Homo sapiens: one gene and its partner. The protein of the gene in region 1 interacts with the protein of each later gene in a pairwise test. Each region holds a gene or a part of one and is shown in the gene's direction. Other genes may lie near its edges.

Region 1 (3,822 bases):
CGTAGGCTTCATACTGGAGAGAAACCTTACAAGTGTAATGAGTGTGGCAAGACCTTTAGTCGGAAGTCACATTTTACATGCCATCATAGAGTTCATACTGGAGAGAAACCTTACAAGTGTAATGAGTGTAGCAAGACCTTTAGTCACAAGTCATCTCTTACATACCATCGTAGACTTCATACTGAAGAGAAACCTTACAAGTGTAATGAGTGTGGCAAGACCTTCAATCAGCAGTTAACCCTTAACATTTGTAGACTTCATAGTGGAGAGAAACCTTACAAATGTGAAGAATGTGACAAAGCCTACAGTTTCAAATCAAACCTTGAAATACATCAGAAAATTCATACTGAAGAGAATCCTTACAAGTGTAATGAGTGTGGCAAGACCTTCAGCCGGACGTCATCCCTTACATACCATCATAGACTTCATACTGGACAGAAACCTTACAAATGTGAAGATTGTGATGAAGCTTTCAGTTTCAAATCAAACCTTGAAAGACATAGGAGAATTTATACTGGAGAGAAACTACACGTGTAATGAGTGTGGTAAGACCTTCAATCAGGAGTTAACCCTTACATGCCATCGTAGGCTTCATAGTGGAGAGAAACCTTACAAATATGAAGAACTTGACAAAGCTTACAATTTCAAATCAAACCTTGAAATACATCAGAAAATTCGTACTGAAGAGAATCTTACAAGTGTAATGAGTGTGGCAAGACCTTGAGTCATACGTCATCTTTTGTGTACCATCATAAACTTCATAGTGGAGAGACCTTACAAATGTGAAGAATGTGAAGAAGCTTTCTGTTTCAAATCCAACCTTGAAAGACATAGGAGAATTCACACTGGTGAGAAACCTTACAGGTGTAATGAGTGTGGCAAGACCTTCAGCCAGACCTCATCCCTTACATGCCATTGTAGACTTCGTACTGGAGAGAAACCTTACAAATGTGAAGAATTTGAGTTTTCCATTTCAAATCAAACCTTGAAAGACAAAGGAGAATTCATACTGGAGAGAAACCATACAAGTGTAATGAGTGTGGCAAGACCTTTAGTCAGAACTCATACCTTACACGCCATCGTAGACTTCATACTGGAGGATACCTTACAAATGTAATGAGTGTGGCAAGACCTTTAGTCAGAACTCATACCTTACATGCCATCATAGACTTCATACTGGAGAGATACCTTAAAAGTGTAGTGAGTGTGGCAAGACCTTTAGTCTGAAGTCATACCTTACGCACCATCGTAGACTTCATACTGGAGAGGTACCTTACAAGGATAATGAGTGTAGAAAAACCTTTCATGGGCAGTCAGCATTTTACAAATGTAATGATTGTCACCAAGTCTTGAGTAATGCTACAACTATTGCAAATCATTGGAGAATCCATAATGAAGAGAGATCCTACAAGTGTGATAAATGCAGAATAAATGCAGAAAATTTTTCAGACATCCTTCATACCTTTGCAGTTCATGGGTGAAGTCGTATTAGAAACCTTACAAATGTGAAGAATGTGATGAAGCTTTCAGATTCAAATCAAACCTTGATAGTCATAGAATTCATACTAGAGAGAAACCTTAGCAGTGTAATGAACGTGGCAAGGTTTTAAATCAAAAAGCAAAGCTTGCACATCATCATAGAATTCATACTGGAGATAAACGTTACAAATGTGAAGCATGTGACAAAGTTTACAGTCGCAAATCAAGCCTCCAAAGACAGGAGAATTCATACTGGAGAGAAAGCTTACATATGTGAAGAATGTCACCAAGTTTTCAGTCACACTCAAACCTTGAAAGACACAGGAGAATTCCTACTGGAGAGATAGCATAAAAATGTAAGAGTTTGTGACAAGGCTTTCAGGCATAATTCGCACCTGGCACAACATCCTAGAATTCACATTGGAGAGAAAGCTTACAAGTATAATGAATGTGACAGGTCTTTAGTGGGCAGTCAACACTTGTTTACCATCAGGCAATCCATGGTGTAGGGAAACTTTACTTATGTAATGATTGTCACAAAGTCTTCAGTTACACTACAACCATTGCGAATCATTGGAGAATCCATAATGAAGAGAGATCATACTAGTTTAATAAATTTGGCAAATTTTTCAGACATTGTTCATAACTTGCAGTTCATCGGCGAACTCGTACTGGAGAGAAACCTTACAAATGTCATGATTGTGACAAGGTCTCAGTCAAGCTTCATTCTATGCAAAACATAGGAGAATTCATACAGGAGAGAAACCTCACAAGTGTGATGATTGCGGCAAAGCCTTTAATTCACATTCACACCTCACTAGACATCAGAGAATGCATACTGGACAGAAATCTTATAAATGTCATCAGTGTGCCAAAGTCTTCAGTCTGAGCTCACTCCTTGCAGGATATCAGAAAATTCATTTTGGAGATAGTTGTTCCAAATACAATGTGTATAGCAAACCATCAAGCATTAATTGACACTAGAGTCAGTTCAGCATTGACTTGAGTTTGACTTAACATTGAGTTGAAGCCTTAATTGACATTAAAGTGTTTATGTTAAGAGGACTGGGCCAGGCACAGTGGCTCACACCTGTAATCTGAGCGCTTTGGGAGGCCAGCACCGGTAGATCACTTGAGTTCAGGAGTTTGAGGTCAGCCTGGCCAACAGACGTGAGCCATTTTCCCAGCCTGTTTTTTGTTTCTTTAACAAAAACTGATAGGGATTTTTTTTTTTTTTTTTGAGATGGAGTTTCACTCTTGTTGCCCAGGCTGGACTGCAATGGAGCGATCCCAGCTCACTACAACCTCCGCCTCCCAGGTTCAAGCAATTCTCCTGCCTCAGCCTCCAGAGTAGCTAGGATTACAGGCATGAGCCACCACGCCCAGCTAATTTTGTATTTTTAGTAGAGATGGGGTTTCTCCATGTTGGTTAGGCTGGTCTTGAACTCCCAGCCTCAGATGATCCACCCACCTCGGCCTCCCAAAGTGCTGGGATTACAGGCGTGAGCCACTGCGCCCAGCCCCAGTGATAAGGATTTTTATGGGTACCGTGTTGAATCTAAATCACATTGGGTTATATAATCATTTAACAATATTAATTTTTCCAAACCATAAGTATGGGTTGTAGCTCTATGTTTCTAATCATTTTGATCAATGTTTGTAGATTTCAAGGTAAAAACCTCTGACCTTTTTACGTTTATTTCTAAGTATTTCTTACTTTAAGTTCTCCAGCCAATGGAAGTGTTTTAAAATTTTCTTTTAAAGTTGTTTGTTGTTAAAAGTATGGAAATTCAACTAATTTTTGGTGCTGATACTGTATTGTGCAAATCCACTGAATATGTTACTTAGTTCCAGTAGTATTTTGGTTGACTCTTTGTGATTTTCTGCACAGAAGATCATGTCGTCTACAAACAAATATAATTTTACTTCTTTCTTTCTGATTTCGATGAGTTTGATTTCTTCTGCTATTTAATTGCTCTAGCTAGGACAGCCAGTATTGATTGAATAGAAGGGGTGAGAGCACTCTTGCATCATGTGAGATCCTCCAGGAAAGGCATTCCATTTTCCCTACTTGATTATTCACTCATTGGTCATTTCATGGATGGTCTTTCTATTGTTTAGGTAAATTTCCTTTCTATCTATTTTGTTTAGGATTTCTATGATGACTGGATTTTGAATTTTGTGAAATGCTTTTTCTCCCTCTATTAAGATGATGTGGTTTTCATCTTTCATTCTGTTCAAGTGGCATATCACATTGATTTGCTTGAATATGTTGAACCATCCTTGCATCCCAGAAATAAGTGGCACTTGAATATCTACAATCCTTTTTACATCCTCTTGAAT
Region 2 (3,922 bases), on another chromosome or scaffold:
AAGAAGATGAGGTTCAAATATGGAGAGCACCTGGCATGCAGTCAGTGCTTAATAAAAGCACATTTATTCCTTCTCTCTCCACTTTTGCTTATAAGGTGTTAGGTTTTGCAGGGTAAGAGCTGCGCTCACTGGTCCAGGACCTTGGCCTTCCTGTGTCTTCACTTTTTCATCTGCTGAACAGACTCCAAGGGCCCCAGTGGTGGGGATAAATAAATGCCTGATTACTCCATTTAGGGAAAGGTAGAAGAAAGGGTAGGATAGAGACCAGGATGCCAAAGGATCCCTCAGGCCTGGGAACCTGGAAAGACTTTTCCAGGACCTAAAAGAGAAGCGGCGGGGCACTGTGGCTCACGCCTGTAATCCCAGCACTTTGGGAGGCTGAGATAGGTGGATCACCTGAGGTCAGGAGTTCGAGGACAGCCTGGCCAACATGGTGAAACCCCATCTCTACTAAAAATACAAAAACTTTGCCAGGCATGGTGGCGCTCGCCTGTAGTCCCAGCTGCTCAGGAGGCTGAGGCAGGAGAATCACTTGAACCCGGGAGGTGGAGGTTGTCATGAGCTGAGATCACACCACTGCACTCTAGCCTGGGCGACAGAGTAAGACTGTCTCAAAAAATAAAATAAAATAAAAATTAAGTGAAAATTTAAAAAATAAAAAGGGACGCATGAAAGTGTAAAGTTCACAGGTGGGGAAATCAAAATGGCCAGCAAGTGTTGGGAGGCACCTTCATCTCTCAGTGCAGTGATTCGGGGAAAGGACCTGAATGTGGATGTCTCACCCCAGGCAAGCACTGCATCTCTGGACAACTTGCCTCACACTCAGCCTCAGTTTCCCCCTTATAGAATAGGAGTACAGGGTTGTGAGGATTTTGTGAGATGCTGCCTGTGAACACCATGGCAGGCCAGGCATACAGCAGGAGCTCGGCCAGTGTCTGCTGTTGGCGTTGTTTTTGTTGTTTTCATTCTCCAGTCAGTTGCATTCTAACTCTGCTGCATCCTCTCTGGGTCTTTCAGCACTTGTCCCCACTGGATCTCAGTTTCCTCCTCTATAAAAGAGGAGGAGTCACCTCTCCCTCTCAGGGTTCTTGTGAGGACAGAGAGCTCCTGACGTGCAATAGGGGCTCTGAAAACAGGAGACCCTTGCCCTGGAATGGAGACGCACCCCAGATGTAGGATGCAGTGTGACTCTTTTGACATTTTAGGAGAAAGAATCCTCCAACTGGAGCAAAAAAATTAGAGCAGGAGAGGAAAGGGGCCAAGAGATGAGACTGAGGTCCCTTCCTGGGCTCTGTCTGGCTGCTCCTTTCAATGCTCCAAGCTACCTTGGGAGCGTGGGTCCCCAACCTTGGCTCCGCTCAGGAAACCATAAAGTCTTGAGTAACATCCCATCTCAGGTTTTTCTCTGTTTATCTTGTTGACCAAATAGCTTAACTGTCTCACCTGCTAATGTGATTGGCAATTATTTACTTTGGAGAGCCCTGAAAGACACTGTCAGATTGCAGAATTCTCAATTATCTAGAAACCCATCACCCAACACATGCTTCCTCGTCCCCATACTATAAAAGAGGCTGACTCCTCGGCAGAAGTGAGTGGGGGAGAGAGAGGAGACCAGGACAGCTGCTGAGACCTCTAAGAAGTCCAGGTAAGAGCCATCCATTCTGTGGCCCCTCTGCTACCCTTAACGGCAGGGATCTCAGGCTCCTGCCCTGTGGGGCAGTGAGTGATCTTGATCACTCACTGGGGGCTGTGCAAGAGAAACAGACCTGGCCAATGTCAGGGATGTGGGGATGGCCATTTGCTCTGCTGTCCTAAGAGACCAGTAACATTGATATAGAAATGGGCACTATTAATGCCGTAAATGAAAGCCTCTAAGGCATAAGTTTTAGCTTGAGGTTACCAATGTGGATACAGATGATCCAAAAACCTCCTAAAATTCTTCACCCAATTTTATACATTTTGATGCATTTTTTCTGAGACTAGGATCTTTAGCTTCCATTGGATTCATAAAGGGTCTGTTGCCCAAAAGAGATTCAGAGGCTGTGGTCAAAGTTACCTCCCTAAGAAGGGCACAACTGGCTCTTTGGACCAAAGACCTTTCATTTCCAGCCTTCCACCACAAGGATGGAGCTTTAGCTGAGTCAGCCAATAGATGGAATTTTGCACAAAGTCACCAGTTGTCTCCAAATTGTAGGTACTAGTGCTGGCTCTGGACAACTCTGCTGGCTGCCAAATAGACCTGTGAGAGGTCTGCAAGCCAAACCTCAGGGGTTGACCGGAATTCCATCCAGGGCAGCTTGAAGGAGAAGAGAAAGGTGTCAAAATGATAGAATGCATGTTTGTGTGTTGGGTGAGGGGAGGGTTGGGAGACCTGCCTTCAACCACAGCTCTGCCATCAATTTATTGTATGACCTTGGGAAAGTCACTACCCCTCTTTGGTCTCCTGGTTCTTCTCATGCAATGAAGACTTTGATGGCCCCAGGAATTCCCCAACAAAGGTCTACATGAGATGGTGGCTGTGGCCATGCGACCCCTGTATTGTGTGACTTTCAAGGGCATCCACCAACCATCATGGCCTGAGCTCAGGCCAAAGGACTGAACAGGGATGATCTAAAACAGTTCAATTCTTCAGCACTTGCACGTTTAACCCTTCTCATTTGCTTTGTCTGAAGAGCAGCAATGATTCAAACCATTGAAGCAAGCCCGATTGGAGAATAAATCTGATGGTTACTTAATTTAACCGAGGGTTCACCTGGCTCTAGCTTCTAATCCTCTGTCCACCGTGTACTTGTGACCTTGGGGAAAGTTACCCACACTCGGTAGTACACAAGTGGGTTTCAAGAAGGGATGGGAGTATATTTGAAACTCCCAACTGCAAACTCACTTGACCTCTGTGAGCCTTGGTTTCTCCTACTGGAAAATCAGACAAGTGAACTGTGGGCAAGATGGAGTGAGGTGAGGCTGGGATTCTTGGCAAGAAGGAAAAAAACCCTCTTCTTTGGAATGTGGTGGAGTGGGGCTGTCTCCTTTTTAGGCCCCTGATCAGTGGTCCTCACCTGTGCAATGCAGGTAACAGGTGCCCATGTCTTAGGGTTGTGATGAAGATGAAATTGTGTAAAGTGGTCAGCCTGTTGCCTGGCAAAGAGAAATTGTTCAGCAGTATTAGCTATTACTAGTGACCCCCTGGTGTTCTGGGGAGCAAACAACCCCACCCCCCAGGTGTCAGGGCAGGTGGTGGATAAATTCCTCTCTGATACCCATGCCATGTTGGACTTGTCATTCTGGCCACAGATACTAAGAGCAAAGATGTTTCAAACTGGGGGCCTCATTGTCTTCTACGGGCTGTTAGCCCAGACCATGGCCCAGTTTGGAGGCCTGCCCGTGCCCCTGGACCAGACCCTGCCCTTGAATGTGAATCCAGCCCTGCCCTTGAGTCCCACAGGTCTTGCAGGAAGCTTGACAAATGGTGAGTTTTCAGGGGTGTATGTGTGCATGTGTGTGTGTGTGTGTGTGTGTGTGTGTGTGTGTGTGTGTGTGTGTGTGTGTCCAACCCTGCAAAGTGGGGAGGGACAGGGCTGGATGGGGGAGGGGGCCTGAGGATCTGGAATTGTCAGATCTGACCCCCAGAGACCCTTACACCCATTTCCAGCCCTCAGCAATGGCCTGCTGTCTGGGGGCCTGTTGGGCATTCTGGAAAACCTTCCGCTCCTGGACATCCTGAAGCCTGGAGGAGGTACTTCTGGTGGCCTCCTTGGGGGACTGCTTGGAAAAGTGACGTCAGTGATTCCTGGCCTGAACAACATCATTGAGTGAGTTGTCCTAAAATAGAGCTTTGATCTCCACCAGGGAACCCCAGGTGAAGATCTGCCAGCCCCAGGCAGTGACCCTGAAGCAGCGACCCTGAAGCAGCGAGGGAGCGGCC

What was found.
Region 2: the proteins of ZNF765 (region 1) and BPIFA1 interact in binary tests that used the Homo sapiens proteins (3 or more experiments, as listed by UniProt).

The regions. Positions count from the first base shown.
Region 1 is NC_000019.10:53,408,591-53,412,412, forward strand, and holds the end of ZNF765 (zinc finger protein 765), read left to right. Parts: coding exon 1-537; 3' UTR 538-3,419; downstream 3,420-3,822. UniProt on the Homo sapiens protein: May be involved in transcriptional regulation.
Region 2 is NC_000020.11:33,234,406-33,238,327, forward strand, and holds the start of BPIFA1 (BPI fold-containing family A member 1 precursor), read left to right. Parts: upstream 1-1,590; 5' UTR 1,591-1,645; intron 1,646-3,291; 5' UTR 3,292-3,306; coding exon 3,307-3,466; intron 3,467-3,649; coding exon 3,650-3,809; intron 3,810-3,922.